Homo sapiens: one gene and its partners. The protein of the gene in region 4 interacts with the protein of the main gene of each other region in a biochemical or structural test. Each region holds a gene or a part of one and is shown on either strand. Other genes may lie near its edges. The genes, in order: ABL1, ARNT, MAPK1 and CASP9.

The links.
Region 1: the proteins of CASP9 (region 4) and ABL1 form a complex in vitro, tested with the Homo sapiens proteins (one study listed by BioGRID).
Region 2: the proteins of CASP9 (region 4) and ARNT form a complex in vitro, tested with the Homo sapiens proteins (one study listed by BioGRID).
Region 3: of the proteins of CASP9 (region 4) and MAPK1, one has a biochemical effect on the other in vitro, tested with the Homo sapiens proteins (one study listed by BioGRID).

Annotation. Positions count from the first base shown.
Region 1 is NC_000009.12:130,839,815-130,847,667, reverse strand, and holds part of ABL1 (tyrosine-protein kinase ABL1), read right to left. Parts: intron 1-7,853. UniProt on the Homo sapiens protein: Non-receptor tyrosine-protein kinase that plays a role in many key processes linked to cell growth and survival such as cytoskeleton remodeling in response to extracellular stimuli, cell motility and adhesion, receptor endocytosis, autophagy, DNA damage response and apoptosis.
Region 2 is NC_000001.11:150,829,184-150,837,036, forward strand, and holds part of ARNT (aryl hydrocarbon receptor nuclear translocator), read right to left. Parts: intron 7,311-7,853; coding exon 7,097-7,310; intron 5,458-7,096; coding exon 5,355-5,457; intron 3,217-5,354; coding exon 3,151-3,216; intron 2,721-3,150; coding exon 2,635-2,720; intron 798-2,634; coding exon 721-797; intron 45-720; coding exon 1-44. UniProt on the Homo sapiens protein: Required for activity of the AHR. Upon ligand binding, AHR translocates into the nucleus, where it heterodimerizes with ARNT and induces transcription by binding to xenobiotic response elements (XRE).
Region 3 is NC_000022.11:21,855,359-21,863,211, forward strand, and holds part of MAPK1 (mitogen-activated protein kinase 1), read right to left. Parts: intron 1-7,853. UniProt on the Homo sapiens protein: Serine/threonine kinase which acts as an essential component of the MAP kinase signal transduction pathway. MAPK1/ERK2 and MAPK3/ERK1 are the 2 MAPKs which play an important role in the MAPK/ERK cascade.
Region 4 is NC_000001.11:15,497,678-15,505,530, forward strand, and holds part of CASP9 (caspase-9 isoform alpha precursor), read right to left. Parts: intron 7,082-7,853; coding exon 6,934-7,081; intron 1-6,933. UniProt on the Homo sapiens protein: Involved in the activation cascade of caspases responsible for apoptosis execution. Binding of caspase-9 to Apaf-1 leads to activation of the protease which then cleaves and activates effector caspases caspase-3 (CASP3) or caspase-7 (CASP7).

The DNA of each region.
Region 1 (7,853 bases), on a different chromosome or scaffold from region 4:
ATGCCTCTGGACCGAGACACTGAAGTGTAGCCACAGTCCAACACCAAAACCTTCCAGTCAATTCCCAATCCAGGCTGATGTCAAAATTGACTCACAATGTATAAATGCCAAGTTACTTGCTTCATTTCATAGTGAACTATGCTCGTCAACCTTAAAAATGATCACAGCTTACAAGGCCAAAGTTGCAGAATGTACTTAAATCTTTCTTGCTTAAGACACAAACTTTCCACCGGTCCCTCTGTCAGGAAGCAAGATTCCCCTAAAGAAGGCTGAAGGCTTCATTCAAAAAAAAAAGATGCCCCAACTAGTTCCCTTCTTCTGTTCTTCCAGCAGATCTTTTTGGCTATTGTCTTGGGAAATAAATTTTAGCATCTGCTATTATTCTTAAATTTTTTTAGTGAACATTTTCTGCAGCCTCCTTTCTGAGTCATACTTTAAACAGATTTAAGATCTGGATCTAAGATCTGGATCTTCAAAAGTGCCTCTCACTCCACTTAAAACCATATTGTTATTTTGTCATAATGTTAACAAAAAGGTTTCCACTCACCAACTAAACTCAGAAAAAATCACTAATTAGCTAGTTGAGCACCGAGAACAGTAATACATCTAAAAAATGCCTCAAACCTCTAAAAAGCTCTGGCTCTGTCTATGACAGTATAAAATTATTTGGAAATTTTATAAGAACCAGGCCACAGAATTCACTGGATCTGTGCATGATTAACTTGTTTAGACAGTATTCTAAGAAAATGGTTTGGGTCTTTAAAGTAAAATTGAAAGATCGTTTTATATAAAAATAATCCTTTCTCAAAGCTGTGAGTCACTGATGAAAAATGTTTACAAAAGATTCTCGGACATGGCATATCTGGCCTAGACTTCCAGGGGCTGCTGGTGCTGTGCCAGACGCTGGCGAACAGTCAGGGAAGGGAAATGCCCATGAACCCCAGTACCGGCTACTTCACAGCCCAAGGGGGGACTTGACCTCCAGGAAAAACATCCCCGGGAAGCTTCCCACCTTCCTGCTGGCACTTGTGCCCAACATCATAGTTCCCACTAGAGTGCAAGGCGGCCAGCTATGGAGCATTCATTACTGTTCACACTGTGGGCTCTCCGGAAGGTTCTTGGAGACGGTTCAGTGTGGGGGGGACAGGAGGATGGAGCATGTCAGACGTGACAAACGTTCCCTTTAATTTTGCTCACATTCAATTATTTAAACTTGTGCTGCTTTATTCATATTTCCTTTGTGGGTCCTTCGCTATTATCCTCCAGTTCAAGGAATCTCTGTAATTTAAAAATCTATAAAACAGATCCTTCTAAAAAGAGGCTTCGTGTTTTATTTCATACTCCGTTCCAGCGGATGAGATCATGCTCAGACTATTCTCAAGTTATTTTATAACAGTCTCAAACAACTTTTCAAAATATGAGCTTAGAGGAAAAGTATTATTTCCCACATTTTGAGCTTGATGAAAGTCATTTTATCTATTTCTACATGGTCCTTTATTTTGTAATTTACACCTTCACCCAGAGAAGTTAAAATTATTAAAACACACACACACACAAGCACACACACACACACACACACACACACAGACATACGTTTAACTGAACACAGCCTTTGTGTTATCTTCAAATCCCAAAACACTGTGTCAGCTGCTAGGGTGCAGGGAGGGGCAGGGCAGTGGGGGAAAGACGTAAAGAACCAGCAGTAGCCCCGCTCCTTGGAGAAACACAGCTGCTGAAAACTTACAGACTCAACAGCAAAAGTCTAACGGAAGGCCAGCGCTGTCCTGTGGATGAATTTTTTTTTTTTTAGATAGAGTTTTGCTCTTGTTGCCCGGGTTGGAATGCAATGGTGCATTTACAGAGGATTGCAAAGGAGAACAGTCCTCAAAAGACTTTTTGAAACAGTCCTCAAAAGACTTTTAAAAACTTGTAATATAGCTCTTATTAATGCCTTAAATAACTGTCTCTTTATTCGCACATTAAATAACAAGGTCCAGTGGCAACTATGTCATTTCAAAGTAGTGGTGCGAACAATGATCACAACCGTCACCTGATATCAAACACCTGGTTTCTGGCCAGGTGTGGTGGCTCACTCCTGTAATCCCAGCACTTTGGGAGGTCGTCTCTACTAAACCACGTCTCTACTAAAAATACAACAATTAGCTGGGCGTGGTGGTGCACATCTGCAGTCCCAGCTACTCGGGAGGCTGAGGCAGGGGTTTCGCTTGAACCCGGAAGGTGGAGGTTGCAGTGAGCCAAGATTGCATCACCACGCTCCAGCCTGGGCAACAGAGCTCGACTCTGTCTAAAAAAAAAAAAAGAAAGGTTAAGATTTGGACTGTTGATGGGGATAGGAGTTAGGATGGAGAATTTTGTTTCTTAAAAATTGTCTGGCTAAGACATTGTCATGTAAAAGATTCCAGGGGAAATATTTAAACCTTGGACTAATTAAATAACTTTATTTTTAAAGGAGGTTTCTCTAGAAACTCATTTAATCTACTGCCTATAATGGCTACAAGTGGAAAGTAATAAAACTGCATTTATTTTAAAAGAAAATTGCATAATTTGGACCTCTCACTAATTTATCCCAGTCTCCTTTTTAGGCTCTTCCTGTGAGAATGCTGAGGTTTTACTGAGCCAATTCCTTAGTGCAGGACTTGTTAACCTGGAAGACCCTGGGAGTCTGGGATAGAATTCAAGGGCTCCATGTCCTCTGATGGGAAAAATTAAAATTTTATTTCACTAACCTCTTACTAAAATGTAGCATTTAATTTTTTTAAGAACACAGGTAACAAACCAGAGTAGAAGTACAGTGCCTGTGACTGTCTCTGGTAGAAACTAGGTATTTCTTTTTTTGTTTGGTGGGGAAACCGAGTTTCACTCTTGTCATTCAGGCTGGAGTGCGGTGGCGCGATCTTGGCTCACTTCAACCTCCGCCTCCCGGGTTCAAGTGAGTCTCCTGCCTCAACCTCCTGAGTAGCTAGGATTACAGGCGCCTACCACCATGCCCAGCTAATTTTTATATCTTTAGTAAAGACGGGGTTTCACCATGTTGGCCAGGCTGGTCTTGAACTCCTGACCTCAAGTGATCTGCCTGCCTTGGCCTCAAATATTAACCTTTCTGAAGATACACAGTCCCTGTCCCCCTCCCTCAACCAAAAAGGAAAAAAAAAAAATTGTGTCACCTTCCAAGAATCTACGGTGAAAAAGTCTCCAATTACTGGAAATGGAGTACAAAGACACTCATAAATAGAGATGCCACTATCTTCAAGGCCATTCTGAACACCTGCCATTGACGCCCATATCAGGACTGAGGCTGGAAGTCATCCTCTGTCAGTTCCCACCCTGCATCTTGGCACTTTTCCTCCTCAATCTCTCATCACTTCTGTCCTTTCCATGCTCTACCACGCCCTTGGCTGGGTCCCCCTTTGGCCATTCCACCTCCACTCCCTACTATCAGGGCCATCTTTCTCAAATGCAGACCTGACCAGGTCACTCTCTTGCTTCAAATCCCTTAGAGATGGCTGCCAGCCGAGAGGCAGAAGAGAGCATGGGCTTGGGAGGTGGCCCTGTCTCCCAATGGTCAGCTACCACTTACTGGCAGTGTCATCGGGGGCAATGCTGGGATCATGATGTGCTTTGCAGGGTAGCTGGCAGTTTGCAGCTAACATGGGACATGTTTTTGAGGGCCTAGGCATGCACAGGCCCTCAAAAAATGGCTGGGGTTGTTATTCCTTCCACCACTATAGTAAAAGTCTGAGCTCCTGAAGCAGGCATGCCAGGCTCTTCAGGGTTGAGACTGGGAGCATCTGGCCCTCTACTCCTGCTTTCCATTCCAGCCTCTCCAAACTCCTTTCAGATCCCCCAGGCCTCCTGTTGCTTGCCTCTCCTGACTGCACTGTGACAAGTGCCATTTACTCTCCCTAGAGTTCGTTCCCCAGCCTCTTCTGCTCTTCCTGGCCTCCCCATCTCCCATAAACCTTCTCTAACCGGTCCTTCCTCCTCCCCATCACCTCGCCCACAACAGGATGCTTCTCCTTTAACCCATTTGGGTACCTGGTGTCTGTCTCTATCACCACCCTGCATCTATCACCCAGTAAGCAATCTGTTCACATGTCCCCAGCAGTACAAAAAGCATGGGCTCTGGGTGGACAGGCCTTGTTCAAACCTCAGCACCAGCATGTCTTGAAGACATTTGTTTCTGAGCCTCAGTTTCTCAACTGCACAACAGGGCAACAACGGCATGGCATCAACCTAGTTGGGCTGTCGGGAGGGCTCAATGAATCCTGCATGCAGAGAATTTCTGCATGGATGCCAACTGTGGCACCTGACACTGGGATGCTCACTACAGAACAACCGCGTCTTCTCTTATGCCACGCCTTCTCTTCTGCCACCACAACAATGTAAACTCCTCTGGGGTAGAGACCAAGTCTCTCATATCTCAGAGCCTTCTGTGCCTGCTCAGTGCAACGCAACAACACAGCACTGCTGGGTGAACTCAGATGTGGAACACCCTGCACTTGTCTGTCTTTAGCTACAAGGTACTGAAAAGTGCAGTTTAATAATCTGTTAACCTGTAATAAGAGCAGCAATAATGACAGATAGTAAAGTTGAAAAACAAATGCAACCTGACCAGGAAAACCTATATAAAAGCCTAGGGAACATAATGATTTGTTTTGACTGAAATATAAACCATGGCCAAAATCCTAAAGGTATAATGTAAAAACACAGTTCTCTGTGCTTTCAAAAGAAATAGGATTTGCTCCAGATTCCTAACAGACACCACAGTGAGCTCGCCGGACACCTTCCCAACAGGTTCCAGGAATCCCTGCAGTGGCCGCAGATCCAGACTGTCCACAGTCAGCCTGCTAATACCCACAAAGGCATTTTTATTGTCACAGGCCATTTGCAACAGACTGAAAGGCCTCCCCTTCTGCTGCCAGCCATGGCTGGTTTGAAAGCATTCACATTTCCTCTTCTTTTAACATGTCTTCATGGACTCCGGGGTCAGCTGACACCAGAGGCACTGGGCTACCCAATGACAGGCAATTTCCCCAGAAAGCCTTGTTAGCCATTAGTATTTTTATTGCTGATCTGGGTAAATGAACATGACCCTCCCCACCCTCATGGTATTTTGGCTTCAAAAAGCAATGCCTAATTGTATTCACGGCCTGTCTTTAAATACAATTTTAAGGTATTCAATGAACAACGCTATTAGCTAAATTTGAGGGCTTGTAAGACAGATAAAGACTAGGTTTCTATAGAGAATTTAAGAGTAATGAGGTTAAAGTTTATGCAACTTAATGTGATAGAATAATAGCTAATACTTACTGATCCCGTATCAAGTGCCAGCACTTCATCTGCACTGAATCCCTATAACCTTATTACGTAGACTCTATTATGAAGGCATTTGAGGGCAGGAAATGGAAACAGAGAGATGTGAAGTTACTGATGGCCTCTCTCTCCAGCTACCCATCCATACATCAGCTGCCTGTCCATCATCTGTCTCCTGCGCTTCTCTTGCTCTCACTCATTCTCTCTCTGTACCCACCCACCCCAGCCCCACTGGCCATCCTATTCCTCTTTGTCTCCCTTCTCTCAGTCTTCCTTCCCTCCCAGCTTGTTTTTTTTTCCCTTTCCTGTCTCAACCTTTTTGTATTTGTCTCTCAGTCTCTGTCTCTATAGATTTCCCCCTTATGTCTCCCCTTCCTCCCTCCCTCTCTCTCTCTCTATCTCCTTCCCACCTATTTCTCTCTGTCTTCCCTATCACCAGTACTCAACACACGCAATATAACAAAAATATTTATGGTGTAACATGGTAAAGAAAGAAGGATTTGAAAACCAACTTTTTTTTTTGAGCTGGAGTTTTTGCTCGTTGCCCAGGCTGGAGTACAATGGTGAGATCGCGGCTCACTGCAACCTCTGCCTCCCAGGTTCAAGTAATTCTCCTGCCTTAGCCTCCTGAGTAGCTGGGATTACAGGCACTCCCCACTACGCCTGGCTAATTTTTTATATTTTTAGTAGAGACAGGGTTTCAGCATGTTGGCCAGGCTGGTCTCGAACTCCTGACCTCAGGTGACCACCTGCCTCGGCCTCCCAAAGTGCTGGGATTACAGGCGTCAGCCACCGCGCCCGGCCTGAAAACCAATTTCTAGAGCAAGCTTGTTCAACCCATGGCCCACGGGCTGCATATGGCCCAGGACGGCTTTGAATGTGGCCTAACAAATTTGCAAACTTTCTTAAAAACATTATAAGATTTTTGGCCCGGTGCAGTGGCTCACGCCTGTAATCCCAGGGCTTTGGGAGGCCGAGGTGGGCGGATCACGAGGTCAGGAGATGGAGACCATCCTGGCTAACATGGTGAAACCCCCGGGCGCCTGTAGTACCCTCTACTAGGGAGGCTGAGGCAGGAGAATGGCGTGAACCCAGGAGGCGGAGCTTGCAGTGAGCTGAGATCGTGCAACTGCACTCCAGTCTGGGCGACAGAGTGAGACTCTTGTCTCAAAAAAAAAAAGAAATGAGATTTTTGTGGGATTTGTTTTGTTGGTTTAGCTCATCAGCTATCGTTAGTATGTTTTACGTGTGGCCCAAGACAATTTTTCTCCCAATGTGGCCCAGGGAAGCCAAGATTGGACACCCCTGTTCCAGAGTAACGATTCTACCCATCTGAGGACAAAGTTACACTATCAAAACTAAGTAATTATAATTAGCAAGCTATTCTTCCTAATGGCTTTGAAACTGTAACTTTATTATGTAAGAAAACAAGACTGACTATAAGCTGATAATTGTTAAAGCCACATCATAAGTACATGGGAGTTCATTATGCTGTCTACTTTTGAGACAGTTTTAGGCTGGGTGCAGTGGCTCATGCCTGTAATCCCAGCACTTTGGGAGGCTGAGGTGGGAGGATTGCTTGAGCCCAGGAGTTTGAGACCAGCCTGGGCGACATAGTGAGACCCATCTCTATTTTTTTTAATTAAAAAAGAGATAGTTTTAAAAATTGACACTAAAAAAGAACAAACAAACCTATGAATTTATTTTATAAATTGTTCTTCTGTGTGTTTAATTAAGATCCACCATTATGGAGGAAAAGTTAAAGTCTTCCAATATCCCATTTGATCTTTAGTTCTTATGTATTTAAGAAAGCTACCCATTGATTTATTTTCTGCTTTTATTTCAGATCAATGATTATACTGGCACAATTACAATGACTTGATTTTACAAGGTGGTAAGTGGCACCAGATTTTCAGTTTTCACGTTTGAGGCTGTGGAAATATTGTCTCTGGACAGGAGAAATAAAATGCCAACCATGAGCCAATGGGAATTTCTCTTCCACAATGAAAATATTCACTACGGGAATAACAGAGGGTGCGAGGAAGAGAAGACATTTTTCAGCCAAAAATCAAGGACAGGAAGTATTAATTATACGCATCAAAACACACTTAGAAACAAACTGCTTTATTAGCAAGAAAAACTATGGGTGGGATTGGCTGAATTCTGTCATCACTTCAACCATTACAGAAACTGGTAAAGCCACCATTTTAGGCTGCTAAATATTTGCTTAAAGTAACAACAGCTTACTTTTCTGCTAGGCTCTTGTTCTGTGCCAGGCTCCCTGCTAAACAATTTACATGAAGTCTCTCAACAACTCAGTGAGGTAGGGATTACTACAGGCCTTATTTTAGAAATGGGAACACCAAGGTACAGTGAGCCTCGGTGAATGCGCAAGACCAGCCAAGAGCACAGGTGGCATTTGGGTCCAGACTGGCTGGCTCGGGAGCTGCCTGCCTGTGCAGAAGAATGAGACCCTAGGAACGCTGTGTGAGCCATAAACCTGCCTGGACTAAAGAGCA
Region 2 (7,853 bases), about 140 Mb from region 4:
TGACAAACATTACTCATGTCTGTACAGTTGGGAGAACTAGTTACCTGAGAGTGAAGAGATAAAAATGAGGTAAAATGATACCATTATTTACAGATGTATTTCCTATCTCCTCATGGTCTTTTGCATAGACATAAGATTCCCAGTTTTAGGACTTTCTAAACTTTCACATTTTATCCAAAAAGGAAAAAAAAATGACAATCACAATCAGACAAGGCATAAGGTCTAGCTCTGCTCCCATACATTTACACTTTACCAAGTTAGTAAAGTAAGAATAAAGTTTATTCAATCTAAAATCCACATACTGGCTATGCTGAACTCATTACTCAGGTTGATATGGTACAAGTAACCAAGAAACTTATCTATACTTATGAAAAAATCAAAATAATTCCACTTTTCTATTGTTAGTCAGGTAATGATACAATGAAAAGGATCTTTCTTCTTTTGTATAGGGGCAAAGGAAATTAACTGGAAATAGAAAATTAAGCATAGTAAAGCTAAAATTAAGACAAGGGGAAAAAGATCTCCCTCCTCTCATACTTTTCAACTTTACTTAAATCCAAGAATAGCAATGGTCACTATAAATGCCATATTCCTTCAAATTTTGAGAGTTTTATGGAATTCTTCATTTGTATTCAGAAAGTAAAAGAAAATTAACAGGAATGAGTCCTGAAGATCTGCTCTAATTGAACGGGAATATAGATGTGGAAAATTCATACTTGCCTGCAATCTGCCAATGGCCACTAGGCAAAACTTGCTTCCCTGGCCAGCCTCTGGGTCATCATCTGGGAGGGAAACACCTTCAGAAACGTGACGTTAAAAGGTTTAACGGGGACCTCCAACTCAAATGCCTTCAAAACTCAGACAAGTAAAGATTCAAAATAGACCTATTTATGGGCCAGGCACCGTGGCTGACGCCTGTAATCCCAACACTTTGGGAAGCCAAGGTGGGCGGATCACTTGAGGACCAGCCTGGCCGACACAGTGAAACCCCATCTCTACTAAAAATACAAAAATTAGCCAGGCATGGTGGCATGCACCTGTAATCCCAGCTACTTGGGAGGCTGAGGTGAGAGAATCACTTGAACCCAGGAGGCGGAGGATGCAGTGAGCCGAGATCGCACTACTGCACTCCAGCCTGGGCGACAGACAGAGTGAGACTCCCTCTCAAAAAAAAAACCAAAAAGCAAAACAAAACAAAATACATCTAGTTATGAAGAGGCTAAGCATAAAGCAATAGAGAATGATAAATAAGAATAAACAAGTATATAAAACTTACCATATATGCCAGTCATTGTTTTAAGTATTTACATATATATTAATTCCTACATTTTACCCATGTTAATTATAGTAAACTGGAAAATACAAGTCCTACCCAGAGTACTCTAAAAAACTATGCTGGCCAAATATGGCACATATGAAGACATCCATTCTATGACCATGTTATAGGCAGAAAATTTATGCTTTGCCTAATCTGTAACTTTTAAAGTTAGCAAGCAACCCAAAATGAAGTTATACCAACCATCAATAGTTATTCATGTCCCTTGGAAAAGAGAAAAACCAATGTTTTACACAGAAAGGGAAGAAGACTGCATTTCTCCCCTGTTTTTTGCATAGTTATACTCTTTTTATCCAGAAAAATAGTATTCCTTGATGCTACATAGAGGTATGAAAGATCACATACTTTAACTGTGTGGCTTATATAGTATATAGACTAAGTAGTTCAAATGTCATTACTACTTCAGTTAAATTTTTTTAAATTACATTAATTACTTTTATTGGGTTACCTGCCATATGCCAGGCACTGGGCTGGATGCTTTCCTTACATTAAATCTAATCCTCACAAAAACCCTATACAGGATGTACTAACTCTGAATTACAGATGAGAAAACTGAGCTTTATAAAGGTCAAGCAACTTACCCTAGGTGATGCCACTAATAAGTAACAATGACAGGAATCACATCCAGGTTTCTCCACATCCAAAGTTTAACCTTTTTCCAAAACACATCACCTTGCTTCTCTTTTCTCTTAGTTTCTGTCTCCCCAAAACCCCTACTTTCCAATAATACCCAGGCAGCAGGGAAGTAATAAAGTTGCTAAGATTTGGAAACTCTGACAAGCCAACTTAAAACTTTGATCCTGCAACCCAATCACCTTTCTCACATTCCTTGTTTGACCTCAAGTTCTGGTAAAGCTAATCTGCTCAAAGCTTGATTTAAAGTCTTTGCAGAGAATATCCTCTTGATAAGTTATTACAATAAAGGCATTTTCCCCTTTTCTCTCAAAGTCTTGTTCCTACTTTAGAAATCTTTCTCAAATTAACTGCATTCAATGTCTAAGTTTCTTTGCAACAAATGCTTAGAATACATATGTTCAGTATAAATTTGTTCACATAAAAACCACATTCTGTGACACAGCCAATACTGAATCATTTTCCAGCCTGAGTTATCTATCTCCTCAACTGGAATAAAAGCTCAATAATGGAAGGGAAGGATTGTACATTTTCTTTTCCTATTTTCTTTCATCTTACACAAAAGTACATTTCATATACCAGGTATATAATAAATATTAGCTTTCATGGACTCTGTGAGGAACCAACTGTACCAAGGGGAAATATTTACTATTTCACTTTCTTACCTGCTGGGGGCCAGGCCTTGATGTAGCCTGTGCAGTGGACCACCACGAAGTGAGGTTCCCCATCCTTTACAGAGCCAAGTCCATTCCTAGAAGAGTTACAGGAGTTTGAAAAAAAAAAAAAAAATCTACCCGTAAAACTCAAAGGGCAATGCTGCCTTAGTACTTTTAAGTTTATGCTCTTAGGAGTTTAGAAAACAGGATAATCATCTTTCCCACCCAAAAATGACCGCCACATTTTTACCCTTGCCAAAGTAAAGTAACCAAAAGGTATGCAGTAGGAGGAAAGTAGGTAAAATAGCATAGCGACTTCCTTAAACAGGATTTTCAAGAGAAGTTTTAGAAGTTTAGGAAAATATTGCCAGAAAAAAAGTAAGTGGGAGGTAAGGGATGTTAAGTGGGAGGTAAGGGATGCAAGTGAGAGCTGCTGAAGGAACGACTACAGTAAGACAGGTAAAAATGTGATGATCTCTGCAGGTATTTGGCCATCCCTTTGGTTTTCACCACTTAGGATCTCACCTGCATCTGTTCCTCACAAAGCTCAGCCTATTCACAGAAACTGGGTCCACAGAGCTACTGCCACACCTGTTTCAAGGAATAAAGAGATTAAAAGCAATCAGACTGCCCTATCAAAGAACTTTCCACAGTAATAGCAGAATAACATGCTCTGGATACAACCAGACATAGAAAATTGGTAATGCTACTAATAATGAAGGATAAAGATAGGTCAAGTTTAGTATTTCTAAAACTTTTAGAATTTGAAGTCAAAATGTTCCATATGTTCTTCATATGCAAACATTCTCAACATCAAGAGTTGGCAAGCTTTTTCTGTAAAGGACCAGATAGTACATATTTTCAGCTTTGCGGGCCAGAAAGTCTGTTGCAACTAGTCAACTCTAGCATTATAGCATGAAAATAGCCATAGATAATATGTAAAAATATGGGCATGGCTATGTTCCAATAAAACTTTATTTACAAATAAAGGGCTGTGGTTTGCTTACTCCTGCTCTACATTAACCACAACTTAATGTAATTGCTACAGTTCATTATTATCTTGCTCTTGCCTATGTCTTTGCATTAGCCATGTCCACATATTGGGATACTCCTGCCAATGCTACTTTCCCTCTCCCTATCCTTTAAAACAAAAATAAAACTTACATAGGGTTAATATGTGTCATGCTCTGTTCTAAATATCTTTACATATATTAATTCATCTAATCTTCATAACAACTTTATAAAGTCAGTATTAACATTATCGCCAATGTGAGATGATGAAATCAAAGCACAATGTAGTCATGTAATCATCCAAGGTTTCAGAAGATAGCATCAAAGCTAGAATTCAAATCCATAGAATATGGATTAAAACAAAATCCAGCAGTCTGGGTCTAGAAGCTACTCTAAATTACACGCTGGGTGCAGTGGTTCAGGCCTGTAATCTCAGCACTTTGGGAGGCTGACGCAGGCGAATCACTTGAGGTCAAGAGTTTGAGGCCAGCCTGGCCAACATGGTGAAACACTGTTTTACTAAAAATACAAAAATTAGCCAGCTGTGGTGGCAATCCAGCTACTCAGGAAACTGAGGCATGAGAATCGCTTGAACCCAGGAGGTAGAGGTTGTAATGACCCAAGATCATGCCACTGCACTCCAGCCTGGGCAACAGAGCAAGACTCTGTCTCAAAAAAATAAATAAATAAAAATAAAAATAAATCACTAAACCACATAATGTTCAATTTTGTGCCTCTCCAAGCAAACCTTTAATATCCTACCCATAATTTCTAGCAACTATCCTCTCAGTACAATGTAGTCAATTTCCATTATATAGCCTGAACTTTGTGACCCTGAGATGCCTTTTGTACCTGTATAGAAAGGACCACCATATTTTCTACAGAATCCTAAAACGTACAGTATATAATTTATAAACACTAAACACCTACTGAAAGACATAGGAAGTCTCAAATTTCTAACCAAAAAAAAAAAGAAGAAATGGTCTGAGTAAATGGATATTGCCTTGTGTTGTAACAGGGAAAAAGTAGAGGTTTTGTAGTCAGACTACTATGAATTAAAACAAAATCCTGTATCAAACAGTATGTAACAGTGGGAAATTCATTTCTTTTTCTTTTTCTTTTTTTTTTTTTTGAGACAGAGTTTCACTCTTTTTGCCTAGGCTGGAGTGTAATGGCACAATCTCGGCTCACTGCAACCTCCACCTCCTGGGTTCAAGCAATTGTCCTGCCTCAGCCTCCAAGTGGCTGGGATTATGGGCGCACGCCACCACGCCCGTCTAATTTTGTTGTTGTTTTTTTTTAGTAGAGATGGGGTTTCACCATGTTGGCCAGGCTGGTCTCAAACTCCTGACCTCAGGTGATCCACTCGCCTCAGCCTCCTAAAGTGCTGGGATTACAGCCTTGAGCCACTGCACCTGGCCAAGTTCATTTCTTTATATCTGTTTTTCCATCTGCAAAATGGTAACCATCAATCTTACACTACAAGGCAATTGTGAGGATAAAATAAGATGACAGATATAAAGCACCTATCATAGTGTCTGGCAAGTTCAGAAACGTTAGTTCCCTTTCCAAATACTTTATTCTGTGTTACAATCCATCTGGGTATGGAGAGTTAAATTTAATCCACTGGAGCTAATCCAACTTAACTCTGACAGAAATAAAACTCTCAGCTCTTGATCCTTCCTATACCAAATCACAATCCTCAGCTTGACACTCACCTCATTCGGCAAATAAACGATCTCCTTGAGCCCATACACATTCTCATGGAAGACTGCTGACCTTCCTTTTTCACTGTTCCAGTCTTTAGATCCAGGATACGCCCTGAAGGAAGATGTGAAGAGCAGTCTGGAGTGCATTTTTGTGTGTGGGGAAGAGGGGGAGAGATACTGAAGGCAAAGATAAGTAAGCATCCTATTCATGCCCTTAATCTCCTTGCTTATAACAGAACTGACCAAGCAGGAGATGAATTTTTTTTCAAGCCTAAAATACTTCAATTATCATCAATGAATCTCACTCTTAAGTTCAAAGGCAGCATTGAAAATAACATTGTGCAAGGAAAAGTAGGAGTGGAAAGTAGTAGTAGAAAACAAGAGGCAAGGCTATATTCTCATAGCTGATTATCTGTATACACATACAGACATACATACAGAGTAAATGTCATTGGTTGAAAAACAAGTACTTTTCTGTAGTCCCAGCTAATCAGGAGGCTGAGGCAGGAGGACTGCTTGAGGGCAGGAGTTTGAGGCTGTAGTGTGCTATGACTGTGCCTGTGAAGAGTCACTGTACTCTAGCCTCAGCAATAAAGCAAGACCTTGTCTCAAAAAAAAAAAAAAGAATAAAAAGAAAAAATTTTAAAAAGAAAAAAACCAAGTAATTTTATATGTTATAGAAACATATAGATCTGTTTGTCTTCTTTATTATACAGAAACGAAGAACAACTTTTGGGGAAAAGGAAGAACTAGAAAAATGAAATCATAAAAACATAAAGGAGGGGAAAACTGGTCAAGTGTGGTGGCTCATGCCGATAATCCCAGCCCTTTGAGAAGCCAAGATGGGAGGAGGAATGCTGAAGGCCAGGAGTTTGAGACCAGTCTGGGCAACAGACAGAACCTGTCTCTACAAAAAATTTAAAAATTGGTCAAGTGTGGTGACATGAACTACTCCTAGCTACTCAAGAAGCTGTAAGCAGGCAGATTACTGAGCCCAGAAGAGTTCAAGATTACAGTAAGCTATGATGTGCCACCGTACTCCAGCCTAGGCAAGAGAGAGACCCTGTCTCTTTTTTGGGTGGGAAAAAAGGAGGAAAACTAAAGATCAACAACACTAATATGAGTATATTGAAATTTCTTGCATTTTAACTACCAGTTTTTTTATCTGCTTCCACTTTAAATTTTTTTCTAGAGTTGCTCAAGAATAGATATGACTTGTTTCCTCTAGCCAAACTCTGGCCAAAAGACTGAACATAATAAAATAGGGGAGAAAAAAAGAACAACAGTACAGATACAAACAACAACAACAACAACAACAGAAAACACCTTATACATTGACCAATAACCATATCTATAGAATAAAAAGCTGTTATCATTGAACCTAGCACAAAGCCAAGCACCAGGAGGTAGAAAAAATACCAGATAATTATCCATACAAATGAGATAAAAACATGGATAATTCTTTTAGAACGGAAAAAAAAAAGTATTGTAGGTTTGGCTTTTACTGTTCTATTTATACCAATATTAAGATAAATGTAAAATATTATCACCAATGAAATATTTTCTAAGGCTGAGCCACAAAGTAGATAATCTCATATGGATAAAAAGAACTGACTATATTCATTAAAGTAGAAAATTCTTGAAGCCTTGCCAGAGTCAACAAACCAATTTAACAGCTAAAACATCTCTTAAGTCTCAGGAAAAAAACAAGAAAGGACTTCTCATTCATTTCCCATACACATAACTCTCACCTGTCAGGGCATTTTCTGAAGTGGAAAGCTGCTCACGAAGTTTATCCACATCATCTGGGTGCACCTGATCATAGAGTGTGCTGCCAAACCATTCAGACTGTGGCTGGTTCAAAACAGGAGTCACGGAGTCAGACACATACACCACCCTGCCTGTCTCACATGAGACAATAAACAGAAAGCCATCTGCTGCCTCCAAGATCAAATGTTTCAGTTCCTGCGCAAGAAAAAGAAATAGAAGTTAATATTTTACTCTGAAAAAACAAGTATTTCTATTCACAGGAAGAAGTAAGACACTTCAGGCCACATGCATCTCTCCGTAAGCAACTGCTGGTTCACACCTGATCCACAGCCACAGGTTTCCACCCTAAATGTAGTTCATCGATAAGAAAGTTTTTTCTAATACATGTTTCCTCACTTTCTCTATGTCACTATCCACCTCTTCCTCTCTATCTCAGGATTCAAGAAGAATAAAAAGGCTTGGGCTAGGCACAGCGGCTCCCGCCGGTAATCCCAGCACTTTGGGAGGTCAAAGTGGGAGGGTCACTGAGTCCAGGAGTTCAAGACCAGCCTAGGCAATGGGGCGAAACTCCATCTTTACAAACAAACAAAACAAAACAAAACAAAAACAAAAACAAAACTAGCCAGGTGTGGTGGCACACGCCTGTAGTCCCAGCTACTCCGGAGGCTGAGGTGGGAGGATCACCTGAGCCTGGGAAGCAGAGGTTGCAGTGAGCCGAGATCATACCACCACACTCCA
Region 3 (7,853 bases), on a different chromosome or scaffold from region 4:
CTCTCTCAAACTTGACATTTTTCATTACACCTTTTTTTTCCAATGCCAAAATAGCAGCATTAACATTCATTCCAGTCACTAGGTAAAAACTCTCTTCAGTCAAACACACATGAATAATCTAATTCGTGAGGTAAACGACTACTGTCATACAGTATTACGAAGTTCCAACCTTACTTGCAGAGCAAAAAATAAAAAATAAAAATAGTCATTTTCCTCAAGGGTTTAATTGTGGGCTTTTAATGTTGAAGTAAATCAATTTACTAGTTTTTAACCTCAAGTTTTTCCCTATTTCATTATATCTCAATAATGATTATCCAGAGATTTCTGAGGTAAATTACATTAAAGACAGCGCTAGTAACTGGGAAACAATCCACACATGAATCTTAATATATTGCATATATGCTAATTTCATGTAATGTTCCTGAGGGCGGTGACAATATTAGAGCTGTACGAGACCCTAGAGACCATCCCAATCCCTTAACTCCACAGATGAGAAACACAAAAACTTGCAGAAGCAGAGTGACGAGCACATGCCCATGTGACATGTCATCAGAAGCAGGGACCAAGACTCAGGTCTCTTGCCTTCCAGGCCAGTCCTCTTTTGGTAGGCTAAAAGCTGCCTTTCACAGCTTCCCACAAATTTCAACACATCCTCACTCAAGTACGTTTCTGAAAGGGACTCACCGACAACTCTTTAGAGAAAAGGAACTATATCTCAAACCATAGGAAAAGTTCTATATCTAGCTTATCAAACTTTTAGTCTCTGAAGCATGTGAGAGTAAGTTTGCCAGTATTTCTTTCTCATTATCCCCCAATACTTTAGTGACTATTTCCAACAAACAAAACTAGACTATTCTCCCATACAAACAAAATGCTACCATCAAAATCGTCAACGCTCACCTGTCAGATTATGACCAAAGGCCTCTAAGTCAGAATCCCGCCCAGGCAAAATGACATGGCAGCCAACTGTGGAGCCTCGGTTGGCCTCGGATAGCTGGTCCCCCCTTCATTCACACCACATATCTGAGGACCAGATATGGAAAGCCTCTCATGCTGGAAAACTTGGCACAGTAGAAAGGCGGCCACACTTTTGCCCGTCACACAATGCACATTCACGGGGGACCTGTGCTAAACCATTCACAGACAACCTGTTTCTGGGTCAGGGTTTCGTATACAGCAGAGCAGTCAGCTATCGACACAAGGGTTTGTAACAAAAAACAAAAAACAACAAAAAAAAGGAAGGACAAACCAAAACAAAAAAGAAAATACCAAAAAAAAGAAGAGTTAAAAAAAAAAGAAGATAAAAATAAAATCATTAACACAGATACACGACTACAATCTAATTTTCAGACATTCTAGTTTTGCCAATCATGCCGATTCAGAATCATGAACCACATGGAGTTGCCATGTTTCTGCACACTTCTTTAGTGTGGAACAATTCCTCAGTGTTTTCTTGGTTCCATGATCTTGACTTAATTTTGAGGTTTACAGGCCAGTTATTTTGCAGAATATCCCTAAACTCGGGTTACCTTGATGTTGCCTCCTGAAGATTTGGATTATGCATGAAACACTTGACTGTCCCTATTCTAACTATATAAAGATGCTCCTTGACTTACTATGGACTTACATCCCAATAAACCCTTCATAAATGGAAAACCTCATAAGGTGAAATGCTTGTTTTTTTTGGGAAAGTTTCTTGCTCTGTTGCCAGGCGGGAATGCGGTGACACGACGACGGCTCACTGTAGCCTTGACCACTCAGGTTCAAGCGATCCTCAGCCCCAGGCTCCCAAGTAGCTGGGACTATAGGCACGTACCACCACACCTGGCTAATTTTTTTTTTTTTTAATTTTTAGTACCTTTAGTACAGAAAAGGCCTCACTATGTTGCCTAGATTGGTCTCAAACTCCTAAGCTCAAGGAATCCTCATGCCTCGGTCTCCCAAAGTCCTGGGATTATAGGCATGAGTCCTGCACCCAGCCTAGCTGAAAATACATTTAATACACCTAACTTACCAAACATCACAGCTTAGCTTAGCCTACCTTAAACATGTTCAGAGCACTTACATTAGCCTACAGTTGGGCAAAATCATCTAACGCAAAGCCCATTTTATAATAAAAGTGTTGAGTAACTCATATGATGTATGAAATACTATACTGAAAATGAAAAACAGAACAGTTGCGTGGGTACTCGGAAGTAAGGTTTCTACTGCATGTGTATCACTTCCATACCATTGTAAAGTCATCTGACCACCAAGCCAAATATTTGTACTTCTGCACATGCTGCTTTACATAGAGACCGAGACAAAGGGGGATTCACATCTTGTCAACCCTGTTTACTTCAAAGGAATAACAGAGCATTAACTAGGTACCAAGTGCTCAGGACTTCAAGTATACTGTTTTATTTAATACTCATGACAATCCTTTGACCCCTTACTTGTGACTGGCAAGTTACCCAACTTTTGTTTCATTTTCCTCATCTGTAAAAACCGGAGAGTGATACACACTCCCTGGAGAATGACAGGGAAAACAGTACCAAGAACTTTAACCTAACAAGTCAGAAATCAATGAGACCCCTTTTGACAATTCCCACCTTGCCCTTTAGACATTCCGAGATATGCAGCTTTATTTAATAAATGACCCCACCTTGGGCCTCAGCTGACTAGACCAGAGGCAGACACTCTCCCAGGCTGGAAAGGCCAGGTGGAGTGAGCTGTTCTGTGCAGAATGATCTCCCTAACAGTGTTTTTACACATTCTGTTCCACTTGGAATTGGATTCAGAGTGTTCTCAGCCTCTGGTCATCAAAAAACCTGAAGACACATACCTTCAGGGAGCTAGGGTCAGCTCTCCTCTGCTGAGTGCATGGGGAAGTGACAAAAGAGAAAAGAGGGGGGAAAATCCAGCTGCTGAGAGATGTAGGGTACAAGAAGCTTTTGTAACTGTAAAGAGGGAGGGAGGTAGCTACGTTGGTCTATTTTCCAGTTCCTGGTTCCAACTATACCTAAAGCTTTAACTGCACTTTCTATCCTTGCAGTAATATGACAAAGGCCCCCAGATCTTAATCATAAACTTTTCATTTTCTATAATGCAGTCTCTACAAAGTAGTGCCTAAAACATTCCAGCACTCTACCCTACCTTTTACCCAGCTAGCTCTAAGTCTTCCTTCAGGTCCCAGCTTAAACACCACTTCCTCCCGGAAACCCTTCATGACTACTCAGAATATCTTATATCATCCAGTGGCACTCCACACCTCACCATACTCAGTAAATGTTATTACTGCCCTGTTGGACTGTAAACACCAAAGAGTAAGAACAACTTTTGTTCACTACTTTGTTCCTACTGCCTAGCACATAATCCGGTACGTGTTTAATAATATTAAATGAATGAAAATCAAGAAACTGGTAGAGGTAACTAGAAGGAATGGGAAGAAATCAATACTGCTTCCTGATAAAAATTAAGTTGCTAGATGACAGATCCTTTGGAGATAAAGAAAAAACAAAAACAAAAAACAAAGTTACTTTAACTCTAATCCTTTCTAGCCTCTTCTTCAGGTCTGTCTGCAATGGCATAATCATTTTATACTTTAGGGCTAATCCATTCAGGAACCCAGGCTGTAGGAAGTACGTTTCTAGGTAACTCGGTATAACAGAGAAAAGCCTATAGTAGTTAAAAGAAAAAAGGTCACAGGATTTGGGGTCTGCATAAATCTCAATTTACATCTCAGTTCTGCAATATACTTACTGGCTGTGAACCCTGAACGAGTTACCTGACACCCAGTTCCCTTATGTGTAAAGTGCAAAATATAATACCTCAAAGACAAGGATGACGGTCAGGCGCGGTGGCTCACACCTGTAATCCCAGCACTCTGGGAGGCTGAGGCGAATGGATCACGAGGTCAGGAGTTCAAGACCAGCCTGGGCAACAGGGTGAAAGCCCATCTCTACTAAAAACTACAAAAAAAAAAAAAAACTTAGCCAGGTACAGTGGCAGGCACCTGTAATCCTAGCTACTCAGGAGGCTGAGACAGGAGAACTGCTTGAACCTGGGGGCAGAGGTTGCAGTGAGCCAAGATCGCGCCACTGCACTCCAGCCTGGGCAACAGAGTGAGACTCTGTCTCAAAAAAAAAAAAAAAAAAAAAGACAAGAATGAGAATGAAGCTTAAACCAGCAAGGCAGGCTTGCAACTAACATTAGTCAGTTGATCATGGCATATTATCCATGCAGACACCTGCTATCCAGCTCCTACTGGCCATAGGTTCAAACCCCAGGGCCTGCCTTGAGTCTGAGAATCTGGGAGGGACCTTGGAGACCATCTATCCTGTGGGTTGCCCAACATCATTTTCAAAGCAATCAAATCCTTTTTCCAAATGGGATCTTGCCCTGCTAACCCTAATAGTTACTACCTATGTGAACTGAAGATGATAATGACTAAAAGGAAATTAAGAAAAAGAAAAAAGACTAAGGGCAGAGGAAGAAGGGAAACGGGAGGGGAAGGAGGTAGATAAGAGAAGAGCAAAGAATAGAAAAAACAGGGATTAGGGGAGAGAATGCTGTATGTGAAGTTTCCCTATTTGGGGTGAGGCCTGAAGCCCCTAAGAGAGGAGGAGATTTGAAAACCACAGACAGAGCCCAGTCCTTTCATGTTATAGCAGGGGAAATAGAAACACATAAATTTTGTTCAGCTGCCTATAGCTTTCTCCTCCTGTGGTTCTGCTCAGTTTCCAGAAAGCCTGGGTAACGTCTGAATCCTCCTGGAATCTCTCTTCTTCCTTCTGGTACGGTGTGGGCCATTTCAAAGCTCAGGCAGGTGGCCTTTCCTAGAGGGAGCAGAGACAGCGCAGCTACTGGATGAGCTCCTAGGCACCTTTCAGTGTGGGAGCCTCAAGAAGTGAAAGAAAAAAAGCAAATCTAAAGGGGAGCAAAATAGCATCTCAGGATTAGGCAAGAGGGTGGGTGGAGTAGGCCGGAGGCAAGGAGCTCTAGATGTTTGTTGGGGAATGAGGTGTTTTTCAATTAATAGGTATATAAATTGTGAGCAAGGTGAGGAATAAATTACATACAGTTTTGGGGAAAAGTCAACTTGAATTTACACAAATCAGATTATGGGAATGGTGTAATGGTTATAGCTAACTACCAGGAATACATCATTAGGGATGCTATTAATATAAAAATTAATTTTGTTTTGACTTATCCTTTTACTCTAAACTCTGCTCAGAAACACTAGATTCTTCTGTTACTCATGTAAGCTGCTGTCCTTGCATCTTTGAGCTCCAAAAGTGTAGAGGAGACTTCTTGATTAAAAAAGTTAAGTAAACAATGAGCAAGCAAAATTAAGAATCTCAATATCTCTGTCTCCAGGTCTAGAGTTTTTATATATGATATATGTTATTGCTGTTCCTGCCTTTCAAACAGGTGGTACAAACACCCAGCAGAGATCCATGAAGAGAGTGCATTAACAGGAAGCAATAGGGCAAAGTTCATAGAGATGAGCTTTAGAGAAAAGCGGGACTTAAATAGAGCCTGATGTTTCTTGGGGCAGGCTGGGGTGCTGTACTATGGGCATCTTGGCAGGATGATTCTCCAGTGGAGGGAGTGTACCGTGCAATCCAGACCATTTAGCATGTCTGCCCTTGACATGCCTACTGACGGCCAATAACACCCCCTAATCAACGTGACAACACAACAAAAAGCCGCCCCCCTATACATTTCCAAATGCCTCTGTAGCAGGGAGGTAAAATCACCCCCACTGAGTACCACGAGATAAAGTAGGCACAATGCGGCCAGGTGCAATGGCTCACGCCTGTAATCCCAGCACTTTGGGAGGCCGAGGCAGGTGGATCACCTGAGGTCAGGAGTTTGAGACCAGCCTGGACAACATGGCGAAATCCTGTCTCTACTAAAAATACAAAAATTAGCCAGGCATGGTAGCACACACCTGTAATCCCAGCCACTCAGGAGGCTGAGGCAGAATTGCTTGAACCCAGGAGGCAAGGTTGCAGTGAGCCTCCAAGCAAAACTCTGTCTCAAAAAAAAAGTAAGTAAGTAGGCAAAATGGGCAGAAAGCATAAGAGATAAAGTGGGAGTGGAACTGGCAGACAGAAACAGGGCCATCCTTTAATGACTCCGTCACCCACAAGATCAAGTCCAAAGTCCTTACCAAATAATGCCCTTCAGGATTTGGCCCTGCCTACCCCCAGCTGTCTCAACTCCCACCTTCTTACTAAGGCACCCTACACTCCAGCCTTCCCAAGTAATTTGTGGTTTTCCTGACCTGATGCACTGTGTTCACGGTCTGTGCCTTTACATGCACACTTCGCTTTGCCTAGAAGGCATTTCTCAAGGCAAACTCCTACTCACACATCAACACCTAGCTCAGAAGTCTGGGAAGCCAAAGAAAGACAGCCCCAAGTCACTCAGCTCTTCTCTTCCTCTCAGCACTTCACAAACTCCTGGGTAACACTGGTATCTTCTCTGTATTATTCCCCAATTCCATCCCATTATTTGGATGAAGAGTTCAATAAACATTTTCTGAGTAAATAACTCTACATGAAAGGTTTTAAAGGCTAAAAAGTGATACAAGCAAAAGCAGACAACAGATATTTCTTGTTACTGAAATAATCTATTTTCTCAACTCTGATCTTTGGTGGAGCACTACTTAGGAACCAGAAAAACTGGGGTTGCTTCATCACTTCCTAGCTGTGTGTCATTGGGCAAGTTAACTAACCTCTGTGTGCCTCAAGTTTCTTCACTTGTGGGGTAAAAAACAAACAGAAGTTACCACTTTTGCTGTACAGTTATATGGCTTAGCATTAATGTATGTAAAATACAAAACAAGAGTGCTGAAAAAGTGGTAGTTCTACTAGTCTGCTATAATCACAATAACCTTAACAAGACAGGAGGACATTGTACCATCAGGAATGTGATCACAATGAAATTTTAGTTGAAACCATCCCCCTCTTTTTTCTTTTATTCATTCAGCTTTCCCAAGTTGAACATCCCCGCTTTAAAAAAAAAAAAAAAGAGGCCAGGCACAGTGGTTCACACTGTAATCCTAGCACTTTGGGAGGCTGAAGCAGGGGGATCACCTGAGGTCAGGAGTTTGAGACCAGCCTGGCCAACATGGCAATACCCCGTCTCTACTAAAAATAAAAAAATTAGCCGGGTGTGGTGGCACACACCTGTAATCCTAGCTACTCGGGAGGCTGAGGCAAGAGAATCACTTGAACCCAGGAGGCGGAGGTTGCAGTGAGCCGAGATTGTGCAACTGCACTCCAGCCTGGGCGACAGAACAAGACTCTGTCTCAAAAAAAAAAAGAGCTGAAAGTCAACAAATATAATGGCTTGTCAGCTGCATTCTGTTTCCCTCCTATAGTACTCAATACCAATCCCTTAATGAGTACCATCTCCCTTGGCTCCTTTGATAACGTGCACTCCCAGTTCTTTGGTCTCTCTGGCCACATTTCCTCTGTCCTCTTCCATAACTTGACCTTTATTGACACAGTAAAGGCAGGCACTCCTTTGGCTTAGTTCTCAGATGTCTTATCCACTCTTAAGGCTTCAATTAATATCTCTATGAAGATGACCCCATGAGCTCTCTTGTCGCATTCAGAAACAGCATTTCAAACTCAATTAAACCAAAATAGACACTTGCTATCTTAGTCTAAGATGACCAAGCATACTAAGAGTGTTTCAATCTCTCCTCCTCTCCCTCCTCCCCGTCTACACTGTTCCCTTATACATCTGACCAGTCATCAGTTTCCTCTTCTTTGCCAGAGTTACCTGGTTGGTCCTCTGTTCTACTTCAGTGGTTCTTAATGTTTCCAGGATAATGGACTCATTTGAAAATCTATCAA
Region 4 (7,853 bases):
ATATCCTATGTTCATGGATTAGAAAACTTAAAGATCTCAATACTACCCAAAGCAATCCATAGATTAAATGTAATCCCTATCAAAACCCCAATGATGTTTTTTGCAGAAATAGAAAATCTATCCTAAAATTCACACGAGAATCTCAAGGGACCCCAAATAGACAAAACAATCTGGAAAAAGAGCAAAATTGGAGGACTCACACTTCCTGATTTCAAAACTTACTACAAAGCTACAGTAATCAAAACAGTATGGTACTGGCATAAAGACAGACATAGGTCAATGTCATTGAATAGAGCCCAGACATACACCCTCACATGCGTGGTCAAATGAATTTTGAAAAGGGTGGCAGGACCATTCAGTGGGGAGAGGGCAGTGGTTTTTTGTTTTGTTTTGGGGGATTGTTTTTTGTTTTTGTTTTTGTTTTTTGAGAGAGTCTCATTCTGTCACCCAGGCTGGAGTGCAGTGGTGCAATCACAGCTCACTGCAGCCTTGACCTGCCAGGCTCAAGTGATCCCCCACCTCAGCCTCTCAAGTAGCTGGGACTACAGGTGCCACCACACCCAGTTAATTTTTGTATTTTTTGTAGAGACAGGATCTTGCCATGTTGCCCGGGCTGGTCTCAAACTCCTGGGCTCAAGCAATCTGCCTGCCTTGGCCTCCCAAAGTGCTGGGATTACAGGCATTTTTTTTTTTAAGAGACACACTTTTGCTCTGTTGCCCAGATTGAAGTGGCATGATCTTAACTCGCTCCAGCCTCAAACTCCTGAGCTCAAGCAATCACCCCAAAAAAATGGTTAAGATAGTAAATTTTATGTTATATGTATTTTGCCACAATTTTTAAAAAGACATAAAACTTGTCTTTTTTTAGAAATATAGTTGAGGAAACTGTCCACTATATCATAGGCACTCACTCAAACCCTTTACTCAGGCTGTCAAGATCACAGTGTCCCCTTTAAGACAACCAAGGGAAGAAATGTGTCTGGAGTCTCTATTCCTGACTTCTGTCTTGCAAATACCAGATATAGAACTATAGAACACCAGATTCCATGGATCTTGAAAGTGATCTTTTTTTTTTTTTTTTTTTTTTTTTGAGACAGAGTCTCGCTCTGTCATCCAGGCTGGAATGCAGTGGCGCGATGGCTCACTGCAAGCTTCGCCTCCTGGGTTCAAGCGATTCTCCTGTCTCAGCCTCCCAAGTAGCTGGGACTACAGGCGTGTGCCACCACACCTGGCTAATTATTTGTAGAGATGGGGCTTCACTGTGTTAGCCAGGATGGTCTTGATCTCCTGACCTCGTGATCTGCCCGCCTCAGCCTCCCAAAGTGCTGGGATGACAGGCGTGAGCCACCGCCCCTGGCCAATGATCTTATTTCCAATGGCGGCTGGAAAGCGTAAAAAATGCGCAGGCCACCTCTAGCAAGTAGCTATCAGTATTCCATTTTATGTAATTAGGCAACTGAGACTGAGATAAGTTAAGGGGTTTCCCCCCAGACAGAGGCTGACTGGGACTTTGACCTACCTCATTTTTGAGTCTACTATTACCAATGGCTGGGATTTTTCCATGTTTCTTTACATCTGCAAAGTGATTTTATCTCTAAAATCAGTCGTTGTATACCTTAAATTTTTAATTCACTTGTACATTAGAGAACTGTAGAAAGCTGCAGGACATCCTAGGATGTATTTTTGGAATCCAAACTTTTACTTTTCTTCTCTCCTTGTGTTCCCTCTCTATTTTGTCCTAGTGTTATCATTTGTACTTCTTGCACTATGGCAAATCCTTTTCTAGAATCAAAGAAGCCATCAGAAAAATACCAAATAGACACCAAGTCATGGATAATGAAATCCATGGAGATGTTTACACCTTCTAATCCAGTAATTTCCTAAGAAAATAATTCAAATGCAGTCAAAAGCTTTCTATATGAAGACACCTGTGGTTGTGTGAGCCAAAAATTAGATATCACCTAAATGGCCGACATTAGGAAAATGGTTTAGTAAATTAGTGCATGTCATGAAAATGGCCCATTATAAAGCCATTTGAGCTAGTGATGATGAAGGCCATGGAGATCTGGGGAACTGCTTAAGGGATAACGTTAGCTGAGAAAAGCAGACTGTGCTCATGGGCTGGAATCCAAAAGGAAGATGCAAAAATGAGATGGCTGTATTAGCTTATAACATTCTGAATTATTTTCTTTTTTAGGTTGCCATATTTTTTGTCTTTTCCATTTTAAAATCTAGACTCCCCAAAGGCAGTGCCAAGCTTGGAAAACAGAGAGGTCCTGGCAGGACTTGTGCCCCACATGGCTCAGCTACAGAGCTACTGAAGTGGAGACACTGACGGAGGTCTTCCGGGATGAGGTCTTCTGCAGTAGGGCTCATGGTGGGTGGGGTAAGGCGGAGCACAGAGGGCTACTCAGGAAAGAAGGCATCTAACAAGAGCTTTGGTTAAAAAATATAAATATATATTTAACTATGTATACATACTGCAGAAAAAAAAAGAGAAATTTTTTTAAAAATAGGCTGAAGTTGGAGTAGGAGTGATCCAGAGGGTCCCCTGCAAAAACACTCCTGGAGAATGTGACTGTGATCCAGGCCCTGATGCCATCAGGGAGAACGGTCCTGGTGAGAGAGACAGCAAGTGCTGTGGCCGCAACGCAGGCAGGTTTGCATGGCTGGATCTATGTGACTGAGGGAAGTCACAGTTCACCCAGAGGAGCTGGGGGCCCATCTGGCAGGAACAGAGGTGGCTCTGGCAACCCCATAATAGTAACACCAAAATCTATTGACCTCTTACCCCACACAGCTAAAGCTCAGAAACCACTGGTCATTGGCATTCTCCCAGCTGATATGAGGGGCGCGGAATTCTGCCCCATGTTTTTTGCCTCTCAACTATCCCACTGCTTCTCACGGAGGCCCCCAGCCTCCAAAGGGGGGCCTCTTTGATCTGTGACAGCCATGTTTTTCTCCAGATTTTGTGGTTCATTGCTTCTGGTTGTTTTCTTGGTAGAGACTCCGGAATCTGCCCCAGGTGTCTGGGAATGACGTGAAACAGCACAGCAAGGAGGCCTGAGGCGTGAATGTGATGGTGCTGGGTCTGCCTGGCAGCCTGTGGGGGCGGAGGGATGCCTAAGTGGGGGATGCCGTTAAGAATGGCCAGAAGAGACAGGGTGAGCAGAGAGGCTGAGAAGAGACAGCAGATCAGAGCAGGGGGTGTGGGGGAAAGGAAAGAGGGGGTCAGGCGGGGCGCTAAGGCAGCTCCGTTCACGTGTCAGCCTCAGCCCACAAATCTGATGTGAAGGCCTTGCCTAGGGTGTTCTGCACTGTATGCATGGCTTGGTTCTTGGAGAGCCTCGGTTCTTAGAGAGCCTCATTAATGCAAAACTCCCCGTAGGGCAGGACTCATTCCCCACAAGAATAAATATACAGTAGGAGGAGATGTTCCCTCCGCACAGAAAATCCACGACCACTGCAGCATATTGTCATTGCTTTCTGTCTTCTCAGCCCGATCTCTCAAATCCCAAAGAGGGGTCACCCCAAAATTGACGGCTCAGCCTCAGAGAGGTGGCTACTTGGTTGCCTATCACGCTGACGTTGCACACCAAAGTTATCGACTTTAATGCACATTTTTCAGCCCTGGTGCTGTTACCTCCTAATGAATGGGTGGATGACATGTTGGAGGGTTTTAAAATTATTATTTAAAAATGATTTTTAAATTATTTATTATTATATTTAAATTAATTATTAAATGATTTTTAAATTAAATATTTTTAAAGTATTATAGTGAGTTATAAAATAGCAATACAAGAGTCCTCAAAACCCAGGACAGGTGTTCTGATGCATGTAAACAGACCCCTCGCCAGGCACTAGTGAAGAACGGGGACCTTTCTATTTCTGCTCTCAGCTGACGTGGCGCCACCATGTGGTAACTGCGTTAAGCACCAGGTCACGCAGCCTGCGGAGGCAAAGCAAGGACCCGACTCCAAAGGGATATCTTAATCACTGCATGCTGGCTTTGAAATCTTGCTGTTTTCTGTGAGTTTTGTTTTAATGATGGAAATCTACATTATGCCAAATTTGGCTCATATTTTTTTTTTATTTTTTATTTTTTTAGAGACAGGTGACAGACTGGCTCTGTCACTCAGGCCGGAGTGCAATAGTGTAAACATGGCTCACTGTAGCCTCGACCTCCAGGGCTCAAGCGATCTTCCTGCCTAAACATCCCAAGTAGCTGGGACCATAGGCACACACCACCAGGCCTGGCTAATGTTTTAAATTTTATGATAGAGACTGGTCTCAAACTCCTCGTCTCAAGAGATCCTCCCACCTTGGCCTCCCAAACTGTTGGGATTACAGGCGTGAACCACCACAGATGCTTTTGTATGGTTCTCCTTTACATTCAAATTAGAATCCACATGAGACGCAACCAGACTGTGGGCTCTGTGCCAGGCTGGGGGCCTGGCTGCAGGGTAGGCCTGGCCCTCCCCTCAGAGCTGACCAGGGGATAAGCCCATCTCAATACAATGAGACAGTGCTATGGTAGGGGAGGGACAGAGGCTGCAGGAGCACAAAGGCCAGCTAACCCTGACTTTGGCCAAGAAAGGGGGTGTTTAGGGAAGTGACAATAAATTGTAACCAGAAGGATGGATGATTAAGAGTCAGCCAGGTGCCAGGCACGGTGGCTCATGCCTGTTATCCCAGCACTTTGGGAGGCGGAGGTGGGAGTATCACTTGAACCCAACAGTTCAAGACTAGCCTGGGCAATATAGTGAGACCCCCATCTCTAAAACAAAATAAGTAAAAATGAATTTTAAAAAAAGAGTTAGCCAGGGGAGCAGGTAGAAGAGCAAGCAAGAGCCTGGACATCCTGGGAAGGCTGGGCCGTGCTGGGGACTCGGAGCATGCCAGGCTGGGGAAGGTGAAGTGGCAGGGGCCAGGTCACCAAAGGCCTTGGAAGCCCTGCTACTGAGTCCTAAGAGTGACAGCAGATATTCACGTGACAAAGGCCCTCCCTGCTGTTGAGACTGAGACTGGATGGGGCATGGGAGGAGCACAAGACTGACTAACTGTCCAGAAAGTAGGTATGCCTGCTCAGCCTGCATTCCTAATTCCCCTGCCCTTTCTGTCTTTCATTTGATTCATAGGAGAAAGAGGGACCGGAGGCTCCGAAGGAAGAGCATTGCTGGACCACACACTGTGGATAAGACAGGAGGTGAGGCAGAGCAGGGTTTCTACAGCCCCGAGAGTGGCAGCCTTCCTCACTTCCTGTTACTGTTGTCCTGAGGGAACTCTGCTGGCGACAGCGGGGTGGGGGACTCTTATGTGACACTGGGTCCTCCGGGGTGGGAGCGGGGGGCAGGCTGGGTTTTCAGTTATTAAAATGAACCAATCACTGTACACACACCAATTAGTGCATTAAATATTATTAAAGTTGCCTGGGCACAGTGGCTCACGCCTGTAATCCCAGCACTTTGGGAGGCCGAAGTGAGCAGATTGCTTGAACCCAGGAGTTCAAGACCAGCCTGGGCAACATGGCAAAACCCTGTCTCTACAAAAAAAAAATAGAAAAATTAGCTGGGCATGGTAGTGTGCACCTGTAGCCCCAGCTACTCAGGAGGCTGAGGTGGGAGGATCACCTGAGCTTGGGAGTGGGTTCTGTTATTTTCCCCATTTGCTGAGCTGTCTAGAGATGAACTGGCCCAGGGCTGTGTGATAGATAGGTCAGTAGCCCATCCAGGGTTAATCAAGTGTTCTCAATCACTTGTGGTCAAGTTATGGGCATGGGTCATGACAGTGACTTAATACAGTTCATGTCAAATTATAAATTCCAGGAGACTGAAACTCTGTTTTTCCCCTATCCCCAGCACCTAACGCACAGCCTGGTATATACAGATGGTGCTCAATAAACACTTACTGGATGAATGATGTGACCAGAGACTGCTCTCCTAGGTAGCCTCCACCCAACTCCACCAACGTGGAATAGGGATGGGGCAGTTGGATGTGCACAGGAGAAATAGACCACAGGTGCCCATGTCACAGCTGGACGAGCTGGACAGCGCTATGGTATAACAGTGCTCACTTCTCTGGCAGATCAGGCTGGAGGCAAGGAACTGATATACCTTCTGAATGTTCCAGTCCGTGGAGAGCCTAGGGCAGAGGGGACTCCCTGGGACAGAATTTCTAGCGCTCCCTGATATTCCTGTCATGACCCACAAACTAGGAACCCCATGTTTGTCTCTCTTCCCTCTTTTTTTATAAGAAAATCAGATAACACTGTAATAGGAGTTAAGTTTAAAATTAGAGCATACAGCAAAACTACAAAGAATCCAAGTAATACATTTAAAAAACAAAACAAAAATAGAGACAGGGTCTCGCTGTGTTGCCCAGGCTGGTCTCGAACTCCTGGCTCAAGCAATCCTCCTGCCTCGGCCTCCCAAAGTGTTGGGCATGAGACACTGCACCCAGCCCAAGTAATCTTTAAATGTTCCTCGAACCCCCACAACTACACTTTTGAAAATTCCAATATTTAAATTCTTTGGTTTCTCCATGCAGTTTAGCTGTGGCCACCCTTTCTCTGGGATAGTGGAAACGGGGTCTAGTTGATGGAGGTCAGGAGAATGGTGACAAGAAAAATAAAAAGAGGTTTCTCCTCTCTCTTCTGCTTTCTTTTTGCCAAGTCTTTGGAATTGAAGCTGCCAAAGTTACTTGAGCCCATGATGCCACTGTGCCATGAAACAGAAGACTCTGACCTCTACAAAGCAGACAGAGCAGGGCCTGCTCCAGCCAGACAGAGGTGCTGCCAAAAAGGGACCATGTGTGGTACCCTCTGACTGCCTGGAGAGACCTCATGGGCCCTGTGAGGGGCAGGCTGGAGAAAGAAGCAGGTGGCGGCTCCCTCCCCACCAGACCCACCCAGAGGGAGGCTGAGGAGCTGCTTACCCCCACCACAGGCCTGGATGAAAAAGAGCTTGGGCTTCCCTCCCAGGCTGGGGCAGCTGGTCCCATTGAAGATGTTCACAATCTTCTCGACCGACACAGGGCATCCATCTGTGCCGTAGACAGCCCCTGGGAACTGCAGGTGGCTGGCCTAGAAGACCAAGAACCCTGGTTACAAAACCAAGAAGTTGGAGTAGGAATCCAACAGCCTGTTCAGAGGTTTTGTGGGAGCCAAGGATTTGGAAGGTCAAAGCCAGGGGCACGAGGCTGATTGAGACAGAGCAGGTTGGTTCTGGAAAGACCCTGGTCAGCATCTGGAAAGACACCTTGACAGCAAGGGGTTGCATGTCAAACTCATGTGCCTCTAGGGGCCAGTGTGCCTGGAGAGTGCTGGCTGCGGCCTCTAGACCAGTGGTTCTCAAAGTTTGGCCCCTGCAGCAGCGGCATCAATATCGCTTGGGAACTTGTAAGAAATGTGATTCCTGGGCCCCACCCAGACCTCCTAATCAGCAGTATGGTCCTCCAGGCCCCTCTGACTGAGGCAGCTCAACGCTGAGAGTGGCTGCTTTAAATCAGTTCAGCTCAGACCTCAAGGGCATGGAAATCACCTGGAAACCTTGTTGCTGGGCGGACTTGGAATGAAGAGGTCCAGGGTAGGGCCTGGGAGTCCACATTCTTCATGAGCTCTAGGGACCATATTATGAGAGAAAGGACCAAAGGGAAAGCCCTGCCCAGCCACAGGCTGGAGTTTTACTGGCTGAAGATGCTGGCCTCGTCAGGCCAGACCTTTGCGGTTTGTCAAGAGAAACTAGAAATCCTGATTTTTATGTGAAATTTGCCAGTTTTCAAAACACCGTGCAGACCACAGGGGGACTCCAGGCCCCAGCTTATAACTGTGATCTGTCCAACTCCTCAACTTAAAA